Linked DNA regions of Homo sapiens. The protein of the gene in region 1 purifies or fractionates together with the protein of each later gene. This does not show direct contact. Each region holds a gene or a part of one and is shown in the gene's direction. Other genes may lie near its edges. The genes, in order: FTCD and GRB14.

What was found.
Region 2: the proteins of FTCD (region 1) and GRB14 fractionate together in Homo sapiens (co-fractionation; one study listed by BioGRID). This does not show direct contact.

What each region holds. Positions count from the first base shown.
Region 1 is NC_000021.9:46,138,330-46,142,142, reverse strand, and holds part of FTCD (formimidoyltransferase-cyclodeaminase), read left to right. Parts: intron 1-3,219; coding exon 3,220-3,263; intron 3,264-3,496; coding exon 3,497-3,635; intron 3,636-3,813.
Region 2 is NC_000002.12:164,509,976-164,513,788, reverse strand, and holds part of GRB14 (growth factor receptor-bound protein 14), read left to right. Parts: intron 1-3,813. UniProt on the Homo sapiens protein: Adapter protein which modulates coupling of cell surface receptor kinases with specific signaling pathways. Binds to, and suppresses signals from, the activated insulin receptor (INSR). Potent inhibitor of insulin-stimulated MAPK3 phosphorylation.

The sequences.
Region 1 (3,813 bases):
CTGATCACCGTTTCCAGTCATTTTAAAAATTCAGGTTTTATTTATTTACTTTTTACAGTAGATAGGCCCTTCGGGGGTTCACCCCGCCTTCGCCACAGCCCGCCCAGTGCTCGCCTCTCTTGCTGCCTCAGAGCTCCGCCTTTCCTTCCCCTCGCACACAGCCCCGCCCGCTCCCAGCCTGGCCCCTTGGGTTTTCCACTGGGGGAAGCACCCCCCTCCCCGGGGGGGCCCAGGGCACCCAACACCTGCTTGCAGAACCCTGCTTTCTGGGATGCGCTTCTCATTACCGGGCAGGTTAAGCATGTTCCGTACATTTAGCAGTGGTTTTTACTTCTTTTCCAGGAAGTTATCTGGTGAATATTTTTTGACTCCTTTTATCTTAGTTTCTCTTGGGGCTTTCGCTGCCTTCTAGTATTTTTTTTTTTTAATAGGGGAGGCAGGCCTTGTTCTGGGCTCAGCTTTCCCCGTTTGTTGTTCGTCTTTGGACTTTGCGTGTGGGGCTTCTGACAATGACTCTTAATCTTTATGTCGTGGAATGTGTCAATCCTGACTTTATATTTTTTGGGTCTTGTATCACAGTTCAAATGGCCTCCCCAGAACAAGATGATCTTTTCTATACTTTAATGGGTTGATGAACTTTAGACCCGGACAGGCATTTGAAGACAGTCATGAATTTAAGTATAAATATTAGAAATAGGCCAGGCATGATAGCTCACACCTGTAATCCTAGCATTTTGGAAAACCAAGGTGGGCAAATCCCTTGAGCTCAGGTGTTTGAAACCAGCCTAGACCACACACCAAGACCCTGTATTTACCCACCCAAAAAGAAAAAAAAAAAATAAAGCCAGGCGTGGTAGCAGGTACCTGTGGTCCCAGCTACTCAGGAGGCTTAAGTGGGGGTAGCTTGAGGCCAGGAGTTTGAGGCTGCAGTGAGTCGTGATTGCACCACTGCACTCTAGCCTGGGCAACAGAACGACACCCTGTCTCTAATGTAAACATATGTATATAAAACATAGGAACAATTTTATGTTTAGAAATTTAAAATAAGGTGAATAATTAAAAAACAAGTAGGAAAAGTACATAGATGAAAATGTAATCAAGGGACAGGAAGGAAACAAGACGTGTGGTTTAGAGAACCATGAGCGGGGACAGTGAGACTGTGCTAGGCATCAGTGGTCGAAATCAGTGGATTGGTTTACGCTCCCTGTGAGCCACGTGAAGGTGGACGGGGAGTGCTGGATTGGTTTACGCTCCCTGTGAGCAATGTGAAGGCAGACGGGGAGTGCTGGATTGGTTTACGCTCCCTGTGAGCAATGTGAAGGCTGACGGGGAGTGCTGGATTGGTTTACGCTCCCTGTGAGCCACGTGAAGGTGGACGGGGAGTGCTGGGTTGGTTTACGCTCCCTGTGAGCAATGTGAAGGCAGACGGGGAGTGCTGGATTGGTTTACACTCCCTGTGAGCCACGTGAAGGTGGACGGGGAGTGCTGGGTGGGTTTACACTCCCTGTGAGCCACGTGAAGGTGGACGGGGGAGTGCTGGATTGGTTTACACTCCCTGTGAGCCACGTGAAGGTGGACGGGGAGTGCTGGGTTGGTTTACACTCCCTCTGAGCAATGCGAAGGTGGACGGGGAGGGCTGGGTTGATTTACATTCCCTGCGAACAATGTGAAGGTGGACGAGGAGTGCTGGGTTGGTTTACACTCCCTGTGAGCCACGCGAAGGTGGACGGGGAGTGCTGGATTGGTTTACACTCCCTGTGAGCCACGTGAAGGTGGACGGGGGAGTGCTGGGTTGGTTTACACTCCCTCTGAGCAATGCGAAGGTGGACGGGGAGGGCTGGGTTGATTTACATTCCCTGTGAACAATGTGAAGGTGGACGGGGAGTGCTGCATTGGTTTACGCACCCTGTGAGGCACGTGAAGGTGGACGGGGAGTGCTGGGTTGGTGTACACTCCCTGTGAGCAATGTGAAGGTGGACGGGGAGTGCTGGATTGGTTTATGCTCCCTCTGAGCAATGCAAAGGTCGACTTTTGAAAAACATAAGGAGATATCTGTACCTTGCACCAAATACATAAGTAATTTCCAGATGGAATAGAAAACTGTATTTCCCCACCACCAACACAACCAAGCCTCACGATAAATCACAGAAAACAAAACGGACCGGGCGGGCAGGCCTCGGCCGGACGCAGATGAGGCCACCTAAAGCACACCCTTGGCCAAGATCTGCCCAGGGAGACCATGGACACCGCAAGGCCTGGGTGTGAGAGAGTGTTCGTAGCGCGAGTCGCAGCTTGAGGATGGCTGTCCTGCCTCCGCCTGCAACTGCTACAGACCCTTGTGCAGAGGACAGCCTGGGAGAGGGGCTGCAGCCAGGAGGCCTGGTCTGGATGATGCCCCAGCCAGTCAGGGAGACACTGGGCATTTCTGTTCCTCGATCACTGCTGTCGGAATGGTCAAAGGATCCAGATCTGGCTGGCGCCCAGGGAGCATTTGCTCTCATCCATGGTCGAGGGTAGGGGCTGTTGATGATGACTTTCTGGTGGAGAGTTGGCTGAATCTTCCAAGATGAAGTGAGCATATTCCCCACTGAGAACCCCTTGGCCAGGGCTCTGGCCACAGTCCGTGTGAGTAGGGCTCCCAGTGGGTCCTTGGAAGGTTGGTGTGTGGTCCCAGCTGTGCTCTTCCACACGGGGTGGGTCCGAGGAGCCGAGTGCCTTACGGTGACGCCGTGAGCTACACACATGAGCACCTAGGAAAGGCCAGTGCCTGTGACCGGGGCAGGGACATGAGGGGCTTTGAGGTTTGCTCTTGGTCCTTCTGCACAGTCTGAGCCTCTTATGCCCAGGCTTGGGGGCGGTGCAGCTGCTTGTGTTGGAGACACAGGCCCAGAGCCACTCCTGCCTACAGGTTCTGAGGGCTCAGGGGACCTCCTGGGCCCTCAGGCTCTTTAGCTGAGAATAAGGGCCCTGAGGGAACTACCTGCTTCTCACATCCCCGGGTCTCTGACCATCTGCTGTGTGCCCCGACCCCCCCTACCCTGCTCCTCCACCAAGCCTGATGCTAAGGGCTATAAACCACTGGCCCAACAGAAGCTTGGTTCCCAGAGAACTGGTCCCTGCCTGGGACATGCTCCTTGCTACAGCCCCTTGTGGGAGCTCAGAGGGCATGGCTGCTCCCCCTACGGTCCCTCGCCCAGTGGTTCTGTCTCTTTATGGCAGGAAGCAATGAGGCTCCCCAAGAACACACCTGAGGAAAAGGACAGGTGAGCCTGGAGGGCCGGCCGCACCGTGGGCCTCTGTGTCTGGGGAGTTGGTGGCCAGGATCCCGAGTACCTGGGTGCTGTGACGGGGCGTGGTTGGCCTGGGCGTGCTGGGTGTTTGGGAATGACTTCCCATCGCCCGCTTCTGCAGCCTGCTCAGCCCTGTTGGGGTGCAGTGTGTCCACTGCCTGCCTGTGTGTGCCGCTGTGCTCAGGCTCTCCTCTTGCTCCTTTCAGGCGCACGGCGGCCCTACAGGAGGGTCTGAGGCGGGCAGTCTCTGTGCCGCTGACGCTGGCGGAGACGGTGGCCTCGCTGTGGCCGGCCCTGCAGGAACTGGCCCGGTGTGGGAACCTGGCCTGCCGGTCAGACCTCCAGGTAGGGGGGCCCGGGGGACCCCAGGCCTCCTGCCGCAAAGCAGGAAGCAGCTGTTGGGGCTGAGTTGCTGGAGAGCACGGTGGTTGGCTGGGCTGAGCCAGGTAGGGAGACCTCACTTCACGGGCAGTTCCCGGGGCTTTGGCCTCCTCCAACAGGGCCGGGGTGTCCGCTGCCTTCT
Region 2 (3,813 bases), on another chromosome or scaffold:
GGTTAAACTGTCTTTTTTCTCTGGCAGTTTTTCAAACATTCTTATAAGCTTTGGTGTGCAGTAATTTCCCTGCTATATTACTAGGTGTGTTGAAATATAGTCTGCTAAATCTTGCTTGATTCTTAGCACACACATTCAATCTGCAAACTCATCTTTTTTTCATACTAGAAATGTACATCCATTATTTATTTGACTACTTCTTTTCTATTCTTGTTATGTGATCTTTTGCATTTGTCTTAGGATTTTCTGTCTTGGCTAGTTATGACTTCAGATGTCCCATGGCTTGTCTCTGCCTTTGTATTCACAGGGCCTTCTCCCTTTCTCTCTGTATGTCTCTTATAACAACACTTGTCATTGGATTTTGGGCCCACCTAGATAATCTCATCTCAAGATCCTTAACTTAATTATATCTTCAGTGACCCTTTTTCTGAATTAAGGTTACATTTATAATTTCCTGGTATTAGGGCATGAGCATATTTTTTGGGGGGCTACTATTCAATCCACTACAGAAAGCCATTGAAGTGTTTGAACAAGGGAGTGAAATTACCAAAAGAGTATCTTGAGATTAGTTTGGTCACAGGGAGCTTAAAAGATCAAGGAGACAGAGAGTGAAAGAGAGAAAAAGAGACTGAAGGGAAGAAGGCAAAGGAGGCAGAGAGGGAGGAGTGGGAAGGAAAGAGAAAGAGAGAGAAGTAGAGAGAGAGGGGCCACAAGATTAAATGGCAAAAGGCCAGATTTGTGTGGCTGATTGATATCAAAGAAGAGGAAGCAGTTAAAAATGTTCTTAAAGATAAAAGAAAATTAAGAAATAGAAAATAAAAATAAACAGGAATAGCATATTTACTAGAAGGTAACTCTCTTAGAAGACAAATAGTGATCTTAGTTCTGGATATGTTTTATTGAGGATGAAGCAAACAAATGGCAATGCTCAAAACAGCTAACGACGGAGACCAGATGTTTGGGTAATGGTCTTGATAGGAGATATGGAGCTGCAAAATAGTTATACCTGACTTTTTCCCATATTTTCCCCCAACTGCTCTTGTATAGCTTCCTTCTTTCCCTCATACACAGTTTTCTTTTGTTGCTGTTCTTGTGTGTGGGTCTTATGTGTGTGCATGTATTTCCTTGTGGTATAATGCTTCATGAACCACTACCTGGCTACCATCTATGTTTGCTCAAGGCCCTGGGTCTCTACAGTCAGCACGTAGTGAAGCCTGCCAGGCTTGTGTCCTTCCCTCAGGGCAGCAAGTTCCCCCAGTCCCTGGGTTGGTCTAGAGATGCCATCTGGGAGCCAGGGACTATAGCCAAAAACCCTGGAAATCGGCCAGGTGTGGTGGCTCACACCTGTAATCGCAGTACTTTGGGAGGCCAAGGTGGGTGGATTACCTGAGGTCAGGAGTTAGAGACCAGCCTGGCCAACATGGTGAATCCCCTTCTCTACTAAAAATACAAAAATTAGCCAGGCGTGGTGGCACAAGCCTGTAATACCAGCTACTCAGGAGGCTAAGGCAGGAGAATCACTTGAACCTAGGAGGCAGAGGTTGCAGTGAGCCGAGATCACGCCATTGCCCTCCAGCCTGGGCAACAAGAGTGAAACTCTGTCTCAAAAAACAAAAACAAACAAACAAACAAATAAACAAAAAACCTTGGAAATCTACCTGTTGTTCCATTCTACTGTGGCTTAGCAGGCACTCAAACCATGAGACGCAGGCCTTCCCACTCTTCCCCCCACTTTTCACTGGCAGAGGAGCCTCACCTCTGGCCACTATTACTACAAGTCCCCAGGGAGTACTGCTAGCAACTGCTGATGTTCATCTAAGGCCCAAGGGCTCTTCAGTCATCTTGTGGTGAATGCCACCAGGTCTGGGACTCGCCCTTCATGGTAGTGGACTCCCCTCTGACTCAGAGCATGTCCAGAAATGTCATCCAAGAGCTGAGGCCCAGAACTGGGGACCCCTCAGAACCATCCTGGTGCTCTATCCATCTGTGGCCGAGCTAGCATCGAACATACATTGAACATACAGGACAAAGTCTCCTTTACTTTTCCCTCTGTTTTTCTCAAGCAGAAGGAATCTCTCACCATAGTCACCACAACTGCAAATGTGCTAGGTTTCACCTGAAGCCAGCATGTCTTAGGATCTATCTTAGGATCTCATCCAAGTCCCATGGATTACTGCCTGGATATCACTGCTGGTTATTCAGGGCCCAAGATCTCTTAGTCAGCAGGTGATGGATCCTGCCAGGACTAGGTTTTTCCCTTCAAGGCAGTGGGTTCCCTTCTGGCTCAGGGTGTGTCTAACAATGTCATCTGGGAGCTACTTTCTGAATAGGGGCCTCACAACTCTGGTGCCCTGTCCTACTGTGGCTAAGCTGGTATCCAAGATGTAAGACAGAATCCTCTTTACTCTTCCCTCTCCTCTCCTCAAGTGGAAGGAAGGGATCTCTTTTTGGAGCCACGAGCTGTGCTGCCTGGGCTTGTGGGAAGGGTAGTGCAAGGACTCCCGTAGCCACCCCAGCTGTTGCTCACCAGCTTGTGTGCCCTCCAAGTGCATGGCTTCCAATCCCAGCTCATCACTAGGACTTGCTTAGGAGTTGCAGTCCTTGCAGCCTAGACTGCCTTTCATGTCTATTTAGGGCTCAGAGCAGTTTAGTCCGCAGTTGGGAGGCTCGCCAGAACTCGAGTTCCAACTGCTGGGATGGGCGGTTCCCCTCTGGTTAGGGCTGGTCTAAATCCTCCCTCCATGGGTAGGTGTCAGCTGAGTTCAGTTCGGTTTTGCTTTCCACTGTGACAGGGCAGCACTGAGTTCAATGCAAAGTCTCATAGTTACTGTGCTCTCCCTCTCCCAAGTACACAGATTCTTTCTCCTGCTAAGGAACAGGCGAGGGGAGGTACTGACAATGTAAGACTGTCTTTCCTACCTCCTTCAGTGCCTCTTTCAGTGATATGAAGTCCCCAGGGAGTACTGCAGGGACTGCTGATGTTCACTTAAGGCCTAAGGGCTCTCCAGTCATCTTGTGGTGAATGCACCAGGACTGAGACTCACCCTTTATGGTAGTGGGCTCCCTTCTAAAACCAGGTACTGTGAGTGCTCATCTGATTTTGGTTCTTAGAAAGGTGCTTTTTTTTGGTGTAAATGTTAAATTTGGTGTTCCTGCTTGGGGGAGGATAGGTAGAGCCTTCTGTTCAGACATCTTGCTCTGCCCCTCCTAATGTCACATATGGCATTTCTACCTGCAAAGAAACCATTTCCTATCCTTTTCTCTGAGGAGGTCTTGATTGGTTTTAGTTCTAAATTTAGTTAACTACTGCTGCAAATCTTAAAGATGTGGTCATGAATATATTTACAGAGAAATCTCTAAGTACGCTTCTCTCCACCTCCCCATGTCCGTACACATGGGGAAATGTACAAATGTACACATACTTAGATTTTGCTAACCATGCCCGTTCAACTTCATAGCCTTATAGTGCCATAAGCCTTAGCAGTGGTGGAACAAAAATCAAGAGAAAAAAACTCATCATACCTCTTATTGCCTTCCAGTGTTTCTCAAGCTACCTTTTACTCTTGTTTGAATAACTGAACTATATTGACTTCTACAGCATCAGTGGACAGGAATGGTTTTATTCCATCTTACTAGAAATCAAACATTTTTACCAGCAAATTAATTTTTATCCAGGAATAAGATTTTTAAAGCCAGGGCAATAAGCTTACCTTTCTCTTTCCTCCTACCTTTTTCCGAGGGTCCTATTCTGGGTCTTTTTAAAGCAATTTTCTTTCCTGTCTTATTCTCCAATGGTGTTAGAAACTACAGTCA